Linked DNA regions of Homo sapiens. The protein of the gene in region 1 purifies or fractionates together with the protein of each later gene. This does not show direct contact. Each region holds a gene or a part of one and is shown on either strand. Other genes may lie near its edges.

What was found. The genes of interacting proteins can lie anywhere in the genome.
Region 2: the proteins of FAM76A (region 1) and DDX42 purify together in Homo sapiens (affinity purification with mass spectrometry, with the first as the bait; one large-scale study listed by BioGRID). This does not show direct contact.
Region 3: the proteins of FAM76A (region 1) and NSRP1 purify together in Homo sapiens (affinity purification with mass spectrometry, with the first as the bait; one large-scale study listed by BioGRID). This does not show direct contact.
Region 4: the proteins of FAM76A (region 1) and PRP4K purify together in Homo sapiens (affinity purification with mass spectrometry, with the first as the bait; one large-scale study listed by BioGRID). This does not show direct contact.

Annotation. Positions count from the first base shown.
Region 1 is NC_000001.11:27,749,961-27,753,460, reverse strand, and holds part of FAM76A (protein FAM76A), read right to left. Parts: intron 3,402-3,500; coding exon of another isoform or gene 3,239-3,401; exon of another isoform or gene 1,915-3,238; intron 1-1,914.
Region 2 is NC_000017.11:63,801,670-63,805,169, reverse strand, and holds part of DDX42 (ATP-dependent RNA helicase DDX42), read right to left. Parts: intron 100-3,500; coding exon 1-99. UniProt on the Homo sapiens protein: ATP-dependent RNA helicase that binds to partially double-stranded RNAs (dsRNAs) in order to unwind RNA secondary structures. Unwinding is promoted in the presence of single-strand binding proteins.
Region 3 is NC_000017.11:30,123,316-30,126,815, reverse strand, and holds part of NSRP1 (nuclear speckle splicing regulatory protein 1), read right to left. Parts: intron 1-3,500. UniProt on the Homo sapiens protein: RNA-binding protein that mediates pre-mRNA alternative splicing regulation.
Region 4 is NC_000006.12:4,024,300-4,027,799, reverse strand, and holds part of PRP4K (serine/threonine-protein kinase PRP4 homolog), read right to left. Parts: intron 1-3,500. UniProt on the Homo sapiens protein: Serine/threonine kinase involved in spliceosomal assembly as well as mitosis and signaling regulation. Connects chromatin mediated regulation of transcription and pre-mRNA splicing.

The DNA of each region.
Region 1 (3,500 bases):
TCAGATCTGGAAGCACCCTTAGAGCTGCAGTCTCACATCTGTTTCAATACCTGCTAAGGACCTGTCTTTCTTCAACTGAATAGAGTCTATTTAAACCCATAACTAGAGTAATGAGCTAATGTAAGTAACTTTTTGTTGTCCCCAAACCTCTTAATGCCCTACCCTTCCTGCTTCTTGTGAGAGGATTCCCCCCATACCAATAAATAGTTGACAACACCCATCCTTTCTATCCTGTGTTAGGGACTGACCTCACTAACTCTCTCTTTTCTCTTTTTTTCTTTTTGAGACAGAGTTTCACTCTTGTTGCCTAGGCTGGAGTGCAATGGCATGATCTCGGCTCACCACAACCTCCAGCTCACCACAACCTCTGCCTCCTGGGTTCAAGTGATTCTCCCGCCTTAGCCTCTCAAGTAGCTGGGATTACAGGCGTGCGCCACCATGCCTGGCTAATTTTTGTGTTTTTAGTAGAGACGGGGTTTCTCCATGTTGGTCAGGCTGGTCTCGAACTCCCGACCTCAGGTGATCCACCCACCTTGGCCTCCCAAAGTGCTGGGATTACAGGCGTGAGCCACCGTGCCCAGCCCTCACTAACTCTCTAATTCCTGGTTCAGTAAGAACTACTAGAAATGAAAAAAGATGGCTAGGGTAACAAGGCAGAAAAACCAGTCTCTTTCCTAATGGCTCCAATGACAGGGAACTACTACTTCTCCAGAAAAATTGTCTTTTACAAAAGCTCGTACTGTAAGAACAATTTTCTTGGGTTGAGCCAAAACCTGCCTCTCTATAACCCTACATATTGGTCCTGAGTCAGTCCTCAAAGGCTATACAGATTAATCTTTCAGGCACATTTCAGACGGAGAATAAAATGAAACTACGAGTTAAAAAAAAGAATGTCCTTTAGAAACAATAAACCACAAGCTGTGCCTGAGTGCCACCAGCTGTTGTGGCTGCTTTTTTGATTGCCTATGGAAAAATAAACACACATGATTAAAAAGTAGCCAGTGTATTTTCTAGAGGAAGGAAAACTAGAAATTAACTTATATTTTCCTAAAATTGAAAAGTTTTTGTTATAATTTCAACAAACAAATTAGGACATATTGAGACAGAGACTGTGGATGTTGTAGGATACTTAGAAAAAAAAGACTAAAGCATCTTATAAAGCCATTTTTGAAAGCTAAAATGTGTTCTGTCTAAAAAAAATAGAAGGCTAATGGATAAACAAAAAGGAGGAAAAATAATCAAACATAACTCAATATTAAATAAGAGAAGAGAATGTAGTAGTATAGAAAGGTCAGTGAAAAACCATTAGGCAGCAACTTGCAGAAAACATGGGGAATAAAAATAAAAGAATAAGAGCATAAATTTAAAAGTATATGAATATTTTAGGGGCTGGGTCTGGTGGCTCATGCCTATAATCCCAGCATGTTGGGAGGCCAAAGCAGGAGGATCACTTGAGGCCAGGAGTTCGAGACCCCATCTACACAAAAAAATTAGCCGAGTGTGGAGGCATGTGCCTGTAGTCCCAGCTACTTGGGAGGCTGGGGTGGGAGGATCGTTTGAGTCCAGGAGGTCGAGGCTGCAGTGAGCCATAATTGCGCCACTGCACTCCAGCCTGGGTGACACAGTGAGACCTTGTCTCAAAAGAAAAAAAACAAAAAAAGCCAGGCATAGTGGCTCATTCCTGTAATCCCAGCACTTTGGGAGGCCAACATAGGAGGATCACTTGAACCCAGGAGTTCAGGACTGGCCTGAGTAACATAGTGAAACCCTATTTCTACAAATACAAAAATTAGGCAGGCATGGTGGTGCATGTCTATAGTCCCAGCTACTTGGGAGGCTTAGGTGGAAGGATCACCTGAGCCCAGGAGGTCGAGGCTGCAGTGAGCCAAGATCGTGACACTGCATTCCAGCCTGGGCAACAGGGTGAGACCCTGTCTCAAAAAAAAGAAAAAAAAAAAAAAAGAAATGGGTAGCCAGTGAAATTTTGGTTTGGATGACATTAAAAAAGGACTGTCAAAAAAAATGTCAGAATGCTTTTTTCAAAGCAAAGTAAATGCAGGGAAAAAAAACCCACAACAAGTAAAGAGGACAGCAAAGTGGAATTTATCTTGTGCTATGAACATTTAAAAAAAAGAAATGCAAACAAGTAGAATAGAATGTTAAAAATGCTAATGCAGGAACATTTTAAATGGGTATGAAAATAGTTTTTGTGACAGCAGAAAACATTTCCAAATTTTCAAATTATAAATTACTTAGAAAAATAAATTAGCATGTCATTTTAAGGAAAAAGTTATCTCCCCTACCTTTTTTTTTGAGACAGAGTCTCACTGCCTAGGCTCAACTGCAGTGGCGCAATCATGGCTCACTGCAGCCTCAACTTCCCCAGGCTCAGGTGATCCTCCCACCACAGCCTCCTGAGTAGCTGGAATTACAGGCACACGCCACCATGCCCAGCTAATCTTTAGAGATGGTGTTTCATCATATTGCCCAGGCTGGTCTCAAACTCCTGGGTGATTCACCAGCCTTGGCCTCCCAAAGTGCTGGGATTACATGTGTGAACGACTGTGCCTGGTCAAAATGATCATTTAATATCTTTTCTGGAGGACACCATGAAAGACCATGTACCTATGTCAAGGATCAGCTTTCTACTTGAGGAAAACAGCATTGCTGATGACTGGATGCAATAAAACACTGAACAGAAAACTTGAGTTTTTAGCTTGGTGTATCCATAGCAATGGACAGCAAGAATAGTGGCAGTATCTCAAGAACAAAATAAGCTAATAGAAAGTGAACATTAAGGACTGGTTGGTTAAACTGGAAGATACGAACGAGCTTTTTCCAGGTCATTCAAACACAGCCTGGATCATAAATGAGCACAAAACAGAAATGAATCTAAAGCCATAGGTCTTGGCTTAGGCCTTTATAAAGCAGGGTGTTCAAAAAGTTCATTCCTTGAAGTAGTTTTTGCAGGGTCACATGCCCTGGCAGAGGTGATGGACAACCTGTGCCACATCCCTTTCTTCACAATGGCCAGACTAGCTTATGAGAGAACAGTAAAGCTGGCCAGAAAGATGATCTTTATGGTTCCTCCCCCCATGTAATCTGACTACCTAAATTAAGCATTCCAGAAGGTTCAATTCAAGAAGTTTAAAAATCAGTGAAACTAGTTCTAAAAACCTTGTAGAGTCTGAAAGCAAGTTAACAAAAAAGGCAATGGGAAAGAATGTTTTGTATCCCTCTAAATAAACAAAATCAGTCCTGGTAAGCCTATATGCTGGTCTGCTCCTATATCCACTACTGGCTGGGAAGGAGAACTGTGAATGGGAGGAGTTTTCAGGATGGAGATGATTTCAAAGATCGCAGGAAGTGTGTCAGGTGGTTTCACTTCAGGATGCCCAGGCCTGGAGGAACAGAAAAATGGTTGGTCCCAACACTTTGTTGAGAAGCAGCCCACTGTACCAACACAGATGGGACACTCTGGATATTAGGACCCAAGCAGC
Region 2 (3,500 bases), on another chromosome or scaffold:
ATTGAGCTTATGCCGGAGATCTATTAACTGCTGTGGAGTGAGGTTGGTTATCTCTTCATGCTCATTGTAAAAGTTTTTTTCAAATGGTGGATAGTCAATCTGCAGGTCCAATTATTCAAAGTTAGTCTAGAATTCAAGAGTCAATTCTGTAAGTTTGATTTTATTGCAAAATAATCTTTTCCAAATTTTACACAAGTAAAGCCATTCCAGCTAGAGAAAGCAAAAAAATTAATTTATTCTCAGCTTAGATCCTAAAAAGTATAGCTAGTTTGTTTTCTGTTCCTATTTTCAATATAAACACCAACCTACTTCTTTTATTGGTTGAGACAGTTTCGCTCTGTCACCCAGGCTGTAGTGCAGTGGTGCGATCCTGGCTCACTGCAGCCTCCACCTCCCCGGTTCAAACAATTCTCACGCCACCTCAGCCTCCCAAGTAGCTGGGATTACAGGCATGAGCCACTGTGCCTAGCCTAACACCAACCTACTTCCTAAAGAGACTCTTAAGGAAACCTCGAATTTGAACAACATTGAAGCAGACTAAGGAATCTCTCTATAATGCCAAAGACCTCAGAGGACAGAGAAGATATTTCACCATATAACATTTAAATATGTTTTGAATAAAGCTGTTTAACCTAGCTCTAAGCATTTAAAAACACTCCTAATATTTATTTTGGAGATAGCTCTGCTTTTAGAGGGAGTTCTATTCTGTTTAAAAACATGGAGTTGTTTATAACTTTTAAAAAATGTATGGCCAAGAATTTCCAATTCCAGAAAGTAGTAGTCACTTCTATTATTCTTTTCATAGCTTAGTGTAGTAGGTATACAAAACATAAGCACATCACCACCTATCAATTTGGCTAAATTATTTTTTATAAACTATTTTTTTTTTCAGAGACAGGGTCTTGCTATGTTGCCCAGGCTAGACTCAAACTCCTGGGCTCAAGTGATTCTCCTGCCTCAGCCTCTCCAGTAGCTGGGACTCCAAGCATGCACCACCATGCCTGGTTCTTAAACTTATTTTTTAAGAAAAATATAAGCATTCTATAGGTAGTTAAAAAAAAAAATCATAGTTCTGGATACATAAAAAAAATTGGAAGAAGAGTGACACTATTGTATTTTCACAAATCTCTTTATTAATGTCGACTTAAATAGCTCCTACTATATTCAAATTATTGCAATAGGTTGGTTTTATTTAAGCCTATAAGAAATTCTTGCCTCCAGGCCTGGAGCAGTGGCTCATACCCGTAATCCCAGCACTTTGGGAGGCTGAGGCCGATGGATCACTTGAGGTCAGGAGTTCAAGACCAGCCTGGCCAACATGGTGAAAGCCCGTCTCTACCAAAAATACAAAAATTAGCCGGGCGTAGTGGCACACACCTGTAGTCCCAGCTACTCGGGAGGCTGAGGCAGGAGAATCTCTTGAACCCGGGAGGAGGAGGAGGTTGCAGTGAGCCAAGGTTGCGTCACTGCACTCCAGCCTGGGCGACAGAGCAGGACTCCATCTCAAAAAAAGAAAAAAAAGCAAAGGAAAAATACGTAGTTGAAAAAGAGAGGACAGTATTTTAGTAGCCTTTTCAGATACCTTTTTTTTTTTTTTTTTTTGAGATGGAGTCTTGCTCTGTCTCCCAGGCTGGAGTGCAGTGGCACAACCTCAGCTCACTGCAACCTCCTCCTCCAAGGTTTAAGTGATTCCCCTGCCTCAGCCTCCTGAGTAACTGGGATTACTGATGCCTGCCACCAATCCCAAAGACGGGGGTTTCACCATGTTGGCCAGGCTGGTCTCAAACTCCTGCCCTCAAGTGATCTGCCCACCTTGGCCTCCCAAAGTGCTGGAATTACAGGCATGAGCCACCGCACCCAGCCCTTTTCAGATACTTTTTATTTTACACTAAAACTTGACAAGTGGTCATTTCCTAAAAGTTATTTTCATTGTGTAATCTGAAACCATATTACTGAAGTTTTCACACTCTGTTACATTATAATCCATTTATTTATCATGTATTTTGAGTTGAGCTTTTATTCATGCTTGACTTTGTAATGTCATACATTGATCATTTGGAAAATATTGGTTCACTGAGGTTATATACAGATCATCCAAATGTTAACACATTTCATTATATTAAAAATCAGTTACTAATATCACCATCAATTTTGTCACAATGGTCTTTAAGTACTGAAAAGCTGTCAAGCCTACTGTGGTAGATGTAAGTTTTCCAAATTCTAATTTTTGCTTGAAAGCTTGAATTTTTTTTTTTTTTTGAGATGGAGTGTTGTTCTTATTGCCCAGGCTGGAGTGCAATGGCATGATCTCGGCTCACTGCAACCTCCGCCTCCTGGATTTGAGTGACTCTCCTGCCTCACTCTCCCGAGTAGCTGGGATTACAGGCATGCACCACCATGCCTGGCTAATTCTGTATTTTTAGTAGAGATGGGGTTTCTCCATGTTGGTCAGGCTGGTCTCAAACTGCTGACCTCAGGTGATCCACCCGCCTCGGCCTCCCAAAGTGCTGGGATTACAGGCATGAGCCACCATACCCAGCCTGAATTTTGTTATTAAAAAACAAAATTTAGATGGAGTTTCACCAAGTTGCCCAGGCTTATCTCAAATTCCTGAGCTCAAGCGATCTACCCGCCTCAGCCTCCCAAAGTGTTGAAATTACAGGCGTGAGCCATTGCGTCTGGCCGAAAGCTTGAATGTCTATCATGGGTAATAAACACTTTCAATTGTTTTCCTTGAAATGTCATTGATTTTGTCCAGTGAAAGTGGTGTTCTATGAAAAAAAGTAGCTAGTTCACCTTACAACTCAAACACATAAGTGCTTTTCCTTGAAATGGCTATCATATTTTGGTATGCAACAGAAATGCTTTATGCGTACTTCCCATTTTATCACACAGAATAAAAAGACATGTAGCTCAAGGGTCACGACTTTAATAATTTTTACTGTTCAGGGCATTCTTGAGTGAAACTGGCCTTTTTTTTTCTTTTTAACTGCAATGGTCTGAGAACAGAGAATACGCCTACTAGAACAGTTTGGTGCCACTGGCTTGATTCATGCTAAGGCATCAGCAGTTTTACTTATCACTGCTTTTACACCAACAATGTAAATGTTGATGCAGTAACAAAGGAAAACAATCTTGGTATAATGAAAAGTGTTTGGACTCTGTAGGCTCCCTGAAAGGGGTTCTTGGTCCACACTGAGAACCACTGCTCCAGATCTAGAATCATTAGTGTATGTGAGATCTCGGCTGATATTTAACCTGGATGAAACACTGATATTTTTTCAAGTGGGTATACCGATGTCCTCATTCCTTAAGGATCCTGTAATTACTGGCTCCACTGTGAAGAAACAGCCTCTCATCTGCCCCAGATCTAGGACCAACAGTAAAAATTTATAGCAATTAAAAAAACAAATGTGACCGGATGCAGTGGCTCACATCTGTAATCCCAGCACTTTGGGAGACCAAGGTGGGTGGATCACTTGGGGTCAGGAGTTCGAGAC
Region 3 (3,500 bases), on another chromosome or scaffold:
AGAGCTTGAGACCCGCCTGGGCAACATGGCGAAACCCTGTCTCTACAAAAAAATACAAAAATGAGCCGAGAGTGGTGTCTCGCACCGGTGGTCCCAGCTACTCAGGAGGCGGAGGCTAAAAGATTGCTCAGGCTGGGAAGCGGAGGTTGCAGTGACCCAAAATCGCACCACTGCACTCCAGCCTGGGCAATAGAACAAGACTCTGTTTCAAAAAATAAATACGAAGCTAGGCTAGATGGCCAGATCCTAACTCATAGAGCTCATACTTTATCTAGTACAGTGACAAGACATGTATGTAAACAACTTATAATGCAAGCTTTTAAAAGCTAAGTGCAATAAGAAAGGTAAAGAGTGTAAGAAAAAGGAAGAGATTCTTTCCAGTGAGGAAAATCAAAGAAGGTATCTTGAAAGAAGTAGCTTTTGCGCTGGGTTTTGAAGGATGGCTATAATTTGGACATTAAAAAAATGGGGAGAAGACTTCCAGTGTAAAGAAAAGCAGAGCTGTGAAAAACTGCAAGCACGACAGTGTACTTTTTATGGAGGAACAGTTAGGAGAAAATGCTAGTAAGCATTCTAGGGGCAAAGCATAGAGAAGGTTTTCAAAGTCAAGATTAGCACTTTAGATTTTAAATATAATTACGTTCAGGACTGAGGATCAGTGATTATAACTGTGCTTTAGGAAGATCAATCTGACAATATCATAAATAATTTGAGAAGACAGATAATAAGGAAACTAGTTATGAAACAATTAAAATAATCCAACAGAAAAGAATGAACATGGTGACAGTGAGACCGGAAAATTATGACAGCAAAACCACTCACTTATGAATTGATAGCAGCATCAGAATATGCTTTCTTACTCATATGGTGTAAAAACTTTCACCACCCCCCCAACCATCTCTCCCACCTTGAACAAAATGATAATTATTTCTAACTTATTCTGACAATTTGAAAAAGAGGATCTACTAGGCCACGCATGGTGGCTCACGCCTGCAATCACAGCACTTTGGGAGGCTGAGGCAGGCAGATCCCTTGAGGCCAGGAGTTCAAGACCAGCCTGGCCAACATGGCAAAACCCCATCTCTACAAAAAATACAAAAATTAGCTGGGCCTGGTGGCGAACGCCTGTGATCCCAGCTACTTGGGAGGCTGAGGCACAAGAACTGCTTTAACTTGGGAGGTGGAGGCTGCAGTGACCCGAGATGCCGCCACTGCACTCCAGCCTGGATGACAGAGCTAGACTCTGTCTCAAAAAAGAAAGGAGGAACTGCTTAAATTATAATTAAAAGGGATAGACTACCACTTTCCCACTAAACTAACCCTGGATGCAAGCACAAAATGAAAACAATTCATGTGCTAGGGCTCCCTCTGCTGGACCACTAGAGAAAAAATCTGATCTTAAATGCTGCTGAATTGATAAAAAGAACAGATAAATTGGCTTCATAGCAGCTCCTTTCCAGGTGTATCAAATGCTTTCCTCAGGAGGGGAATAAGAAATTATCTTTCTTCTATATTTTCCACAGCACTAATAATTTAATTGTTGCTTAAATTGTTGACTAATTATGAAAGAGATTTTAATATATAGTCAAATCACACAAATTTTTTTTTAATCTTTTTTTTTGAGACGGAGTCTCGTTCTGTCACCCAGGCTGGAGTGCAGTGGCTTGATATCAGCTCACTCAACCTCTGCCTCCAGGGTTCAAGTGATTTTCCTGCCTCAGCCTGAGTAGCTGGGATTACAGGTGCCCACCACCATGTCCAGCTAATTTTTGTATTTTTAGTAGAGATGGTGTTTCACCATATTGGCCAGGCTGGTCTTGAACTACTGACCTCAAGTGATCTGCCCACCTCAGCCTCCCAAAGTGCTGGGATTATAGGCCTGAGCCACCATGACTGGCCAAATCTCACAAATATTTAAATATACTCAATAAATTTACTTCTCAGTAAAAAGACAAGCTGGAATTAACCAGACTGATTTTTTTATAGGTAAGGAAATTATTCTAAGGAATGGTTTTATATTCCGTTCACTAAGAAATAAGCTGCAGCTCCCTTGTCCATTGGCTTTGACCGGAAGGTAGGAGAACCTTTCTCTCTAAGACTGAATCTCCCAAATGTTTCTGCTCCTTCTGGACAAGCCCAGTTCCCACCAGGTAACTCTGGTCCCCAGCCTCCAAGAACCATCTCCTACTTGTATCCCTCTATATATCACTACTTGCTTCTTACTGCTGCTAATCTCTCGACTGCCTCATCATGCCCTTTTTGGCATCTCAAGTCTTCCATCACCTATGTTAACAATTCTCTGTATTAAAGTCCCACTACAGGAAGGAGGAAAAGAGGAAGAGCAGGAGGGAAGGAGAAAGCTAGCACAAAATGGCCCAGGCCTATCTTTGCTGACTCTAGTGTACCCACTGGCTAGCTAACACCAGCCTCATTTCACAATGGAAAAGAAACAGCAGTAACATCAAAAAACTCTCTAGATTACTTGTGTAAACCCATCCTTCTCAAACTGTGGTATGTTGTGGTCATTTCATATCGCTTTTTCTTTTTATTTTAGAGACAGGATCTCCCTCTGTTGCCCAGGCTGGAGTGCAGTAGCACAATCCTAGCTCACTGCAACCTCAAACCTGGGCTCAAGCAATTCTCCCCACCTGAGCCTTCCAAGTACCTAACATTACCAGTGCGTGCCACCACACTTTTTTTTTTTTTATAGAGACGGGGTCTCGCTGTTGCCCAGGCTGGACTTGAACTCCTAGCCTCAAGCGATTCTCCCACCTCAGCCTCCGAAAGTGCATGAGGGTACAGGCATGAGTTATCATGCCTGGCCATGATGCTTTGTGTTACACAGTATACCAGGGTGCTTTAATGTGAAATGCAAGATAAGCATGTCCAATCCTTCTGTTGTATCCATAGTAAGTGATTTTTATAATTATTTGTATATTAAACCACAAGGGTGCTAGAAAATTTAATGGTAAATAGACGATGGACGATTTAATGGTAAACAGTCTTCAACAAAAGGTGCTGGGACAACTGGATATCCATATGCAAATGAATGAAGTTGAACCCCCTCTCTCTTATTATTAAAAAAAAAAAATTTCAAAATGTATGAAAGACCTAAACTCAAGGACTAAAACAACAAAATTCTTAGAAGAAAACATAGTGGAAATCTTTGTGACCTCGGATTAGGCAATGGTTTCTTAGGTAGGACACTAAAGCACCAGCAACAGCAGCAAAAAATGTATTTCCTCAAAACAACTTTTGTGCTTCGAAGGATATTTTCAAGAAAAGTGAACAGACAACCCACAGAACAGGAGAATATACTTACAAACCATATATCTAATAAGATACTAAAGGAACTCTTACAATCCATAATAAAATGACAACCCAATTTAAAAAGAGGTAAAGCCGGGCACGGTGGCTCATGCCTGTAATCCCAGCACTTTGGAAGGCTGAGGCAGGCAGATCACAAGGTCAGGAGTTCGAGACCAGCCTGGCCAACATAG
Region 4 (3,500 bases), on another chromosome or scaffold:
CCAGACTGCCTGGGTTCAAATTCCAGTTTCATTACTTACTAGTTGTGTGGTCTTGGCAAGTGATCCTCAGGCATTTCATCTACATGACGGAGAAAACAATAGTACCTACCTGAAAAGGTGTTATGAAGTTTACACAGTGAATAGATGTTAAATGCTTATGACAGTGCCTAGCACGGACCAACCCCCACCCCACCCCCCCACCCCTCCGCCAAATAAGCTATTATTATTGTATAGATGCTAGATAAATATATTTATTCACAAAAATCCTGTGGAGCTGAGAGGGCTGCTAATAAGAATGTTATTTTTAGGAACAGCATCAAAGAGCATAGATTCTGGAGTCAAACTACCTGGTTTAAATGCTGCCTCCAACATGACAAAGCTATTGTGCCCTTAGGCAAGTTGCTCTTCTGTGCCTCGGTTTCCTCAACTGTAAAAAATGGGGTAATAGTACTGACAAATCATAGGCTTATGAAAATTAAATGAGTTCATAGTATAAAAGGCTGTCACACTAAGTGTTCAAGAAATGTCTCTCCATTTGAGTTGAGAATTTTGAGTTTCAAGGGACTTGCCTAAGGTCACACATACAACAAACCAGTGAGAAGGCTGTTATTTCAAGTCAGTCAAAAGATCTTCCATTTGATTAAGATGCTTTAAAAGTCAGATTATGTCACTACTCTTTGTGAAATTTTATTGCTTTCTACCTTATTCAGAGCAAAAGGTCCTATACTTACAGCCCCAACATCCCCCACACTCTAAACCTAACACTCTTCTCCCACGGTCACCCTGCTCCAGCCACACCATGTTCCTTGAATAGGCATACTCACATCTCAGGTACGTGGGACCTGTTTCTCCTGCCAGGAATGCTTTCCCCAGATACATGCATTCCTGGCTACCTTGGCCTACCTTGTCTTTGCTAAAACGTCACTTTCTCAAACAAGTTTTCCTGATCAATCCATTTTAAATGCAAAACCACTCCACTGCACACATATTCTCCTTCTGTGCTTAACATTTTTCTCCAAAGCAATTGTTACCACTAATATAATTCTTGTTTGTCTCTCCCTATCATAATGTAAGCACTATATGAGCAGAATTTTCATTTTAGTTCACTGCTCTATCTCTGAGGGCCTAGATTATCTAATCTATAGCAGGTGCTCAGTAAGTATTGTTTGTGTTAATTATATATATAGAATAACATAAGGCCGGGCACGGTGGCTCACACCTGTAAACCCAGCACTTTGGGAGGCCCAAGCAGGCAGATCACTTGAGGTCAGGAGTTTAAGACCAGCCTGGCCAACATGGTGAAACCCTGTCTCTACAAAAATACAAAAAACTAGCCGGGCATAATGGCGGATGCCTGTAATCCCAGCTACTCCGGAGGCTGAGGCAGGAGAAGTGCTTGAACCTGGGAGGCGAAGGCTGCAGTGACCCAAGATTGCGCCATTGCACTCCAGCCTGGGTGGCAGAACAAGACTCTGTCTCCAAAAAAAAAAAAAAAAGGCTGGGCACAGTGGCTCACACCTGTAATCCTAGCACTTTGGGAGGCTGAGGCGGGTGGATCACCTGAGGTCAGAAGTTCAAGACCAGCCTGACCAACATGGAGAAACCCCATCTCTACTAAAAATACAAAAAAATTAGCCGGGCGTGGTGGCACATGCCTGTAATCCCAGCTACTCGGGAGGCTGAGGCAGGAGAACTGCTTGAACCCAGGAGGCGGAGGTTGTGGTGAGCTGAGATCACACCATTGCACTCCAGCCTGTGCAAAAAGAGCAAAACTCTGTCTCAAAAACAAACAAAAAGCATATAAAAGTTGTCTAAAGCTGATTTACACTATCTATTATAGACTCTTAGAACTTGAAAGTTAAGATTTTTGCTTTGCTCAGTTTTATCTCCAGTGCCTCACACAGTGCACACACATAGTAGGCACACACCTATTTTCTGACTGCGTGATATTCAAAATTACTTACATTTCATCAACCCCTCCCAAAGGAAAATCAGTTTTTTGAACCTTATCTTTTCTAATGCTAACAATTTACAAAAATCTTAGGAGTTTCATTAAAAATTGTTAAGAGTCTACCCATAGAGGAATCAACTTCTATCAACAGAAAATCTAGCTCCTAGAGCTTCTGGGAATTAGAAATACATCATGATGACCAGTATCACTGTAGAAGGGTCATTCCCATGAGTGACTAGTTTCCATTGTAAATTAATGAGTATTATCTCAAGAAATAATGAGTAGGTTCCTGCTAAAAATGCTACCAGCTCGGTACAATCAGGTTAACCTTAATTATAGCATTTTCTTATACAGGGGCTAGGCATACAATGGATCTTTACCAGTCTCAACTCATCTCTCAATGCAAATGTCACAAATCACAACTAAAGTCTGACCAGGTCAATCTGGAAAACTTGAAACATTGAGTCAATGGCATAATGTATTACATACAATGGGCCTGTGCTAAAACAGCTAAATTAGCTTTATCATCAACGACTTTCTTCTAAAGCTCAAGAAAAAGGTTTCTTGTTAAGAAACCTAACGGCCCTCTTGGATAGTTTATACTGACAATAAATATAGGCCATATATATTTCATTTATATAAATTTACGCTTTAACATTAACATTTTACAATTTAATATCCCACATTTAGCCAAGTGGATGTGTATACCAACCTGGTCACAACAGGTTTATCACAAAATATTTATTGAGAACCTATTGAATATTGGATAACATTCTTCAGATCACATTATTTGGAAGCAAAGGTGAATGAGAAGTGCAGACAACATGGGGTTGCTTAACAGTATTTATTTGTTTTGTTAAGTTTTACCTTTTAAAAAACCCATGTCTTGAGGCACCCAGCACAATGAATGAAAATCGTGGAACGCCTTTAAAATAACATAGTCACGGTCAGGTGCAGTGGCTTATGACTGTAATCCCAACACTTTTGGGAGGCTGAGACTGGCGGATCACCTGAGGTCAGGAGTTTGAGACCAGCCTGGCCAATATGGTGAAATCCCGTCTCTACTAAAAATACAAAAATTAGCACGGCATGGTGGTGCGTGCCTGTAATCCCAGCTACTCGGGAGACAGAGACAGGAGAATCACTTGAACCTGGGACGCAGAGGTTGCAGTGAGCCAAGATTGCGCTACTGCACTCCAGCCTGGGCAACAGAGACTCGGTCTCAAAAAAATAAAATAGTCACCAATCACCAACCACCAGTGTTATTTTAACTTCTTCTTTCACATTTTTTTCCAAACAATAGTCTTAGTGAATTTATTTGGTAGGCATTCAAAATATACAGAGACACAGAGAACTGACTGATTTAAATTTGTGTATGAATAAAGCCGTTTTTAAGCTAGACAATTCTTTAAATTTTTTTTTAGTGGCGAGCAAAGTGAACGCCACTGCTATTTACCAGGAAAGTAATTAAGCCTATTTCTCTGACAAGTTAAAATGTATATATCTTTTAAGAAACTGGGTCTCACTATGTTGCCTGGGCTAGATTCAA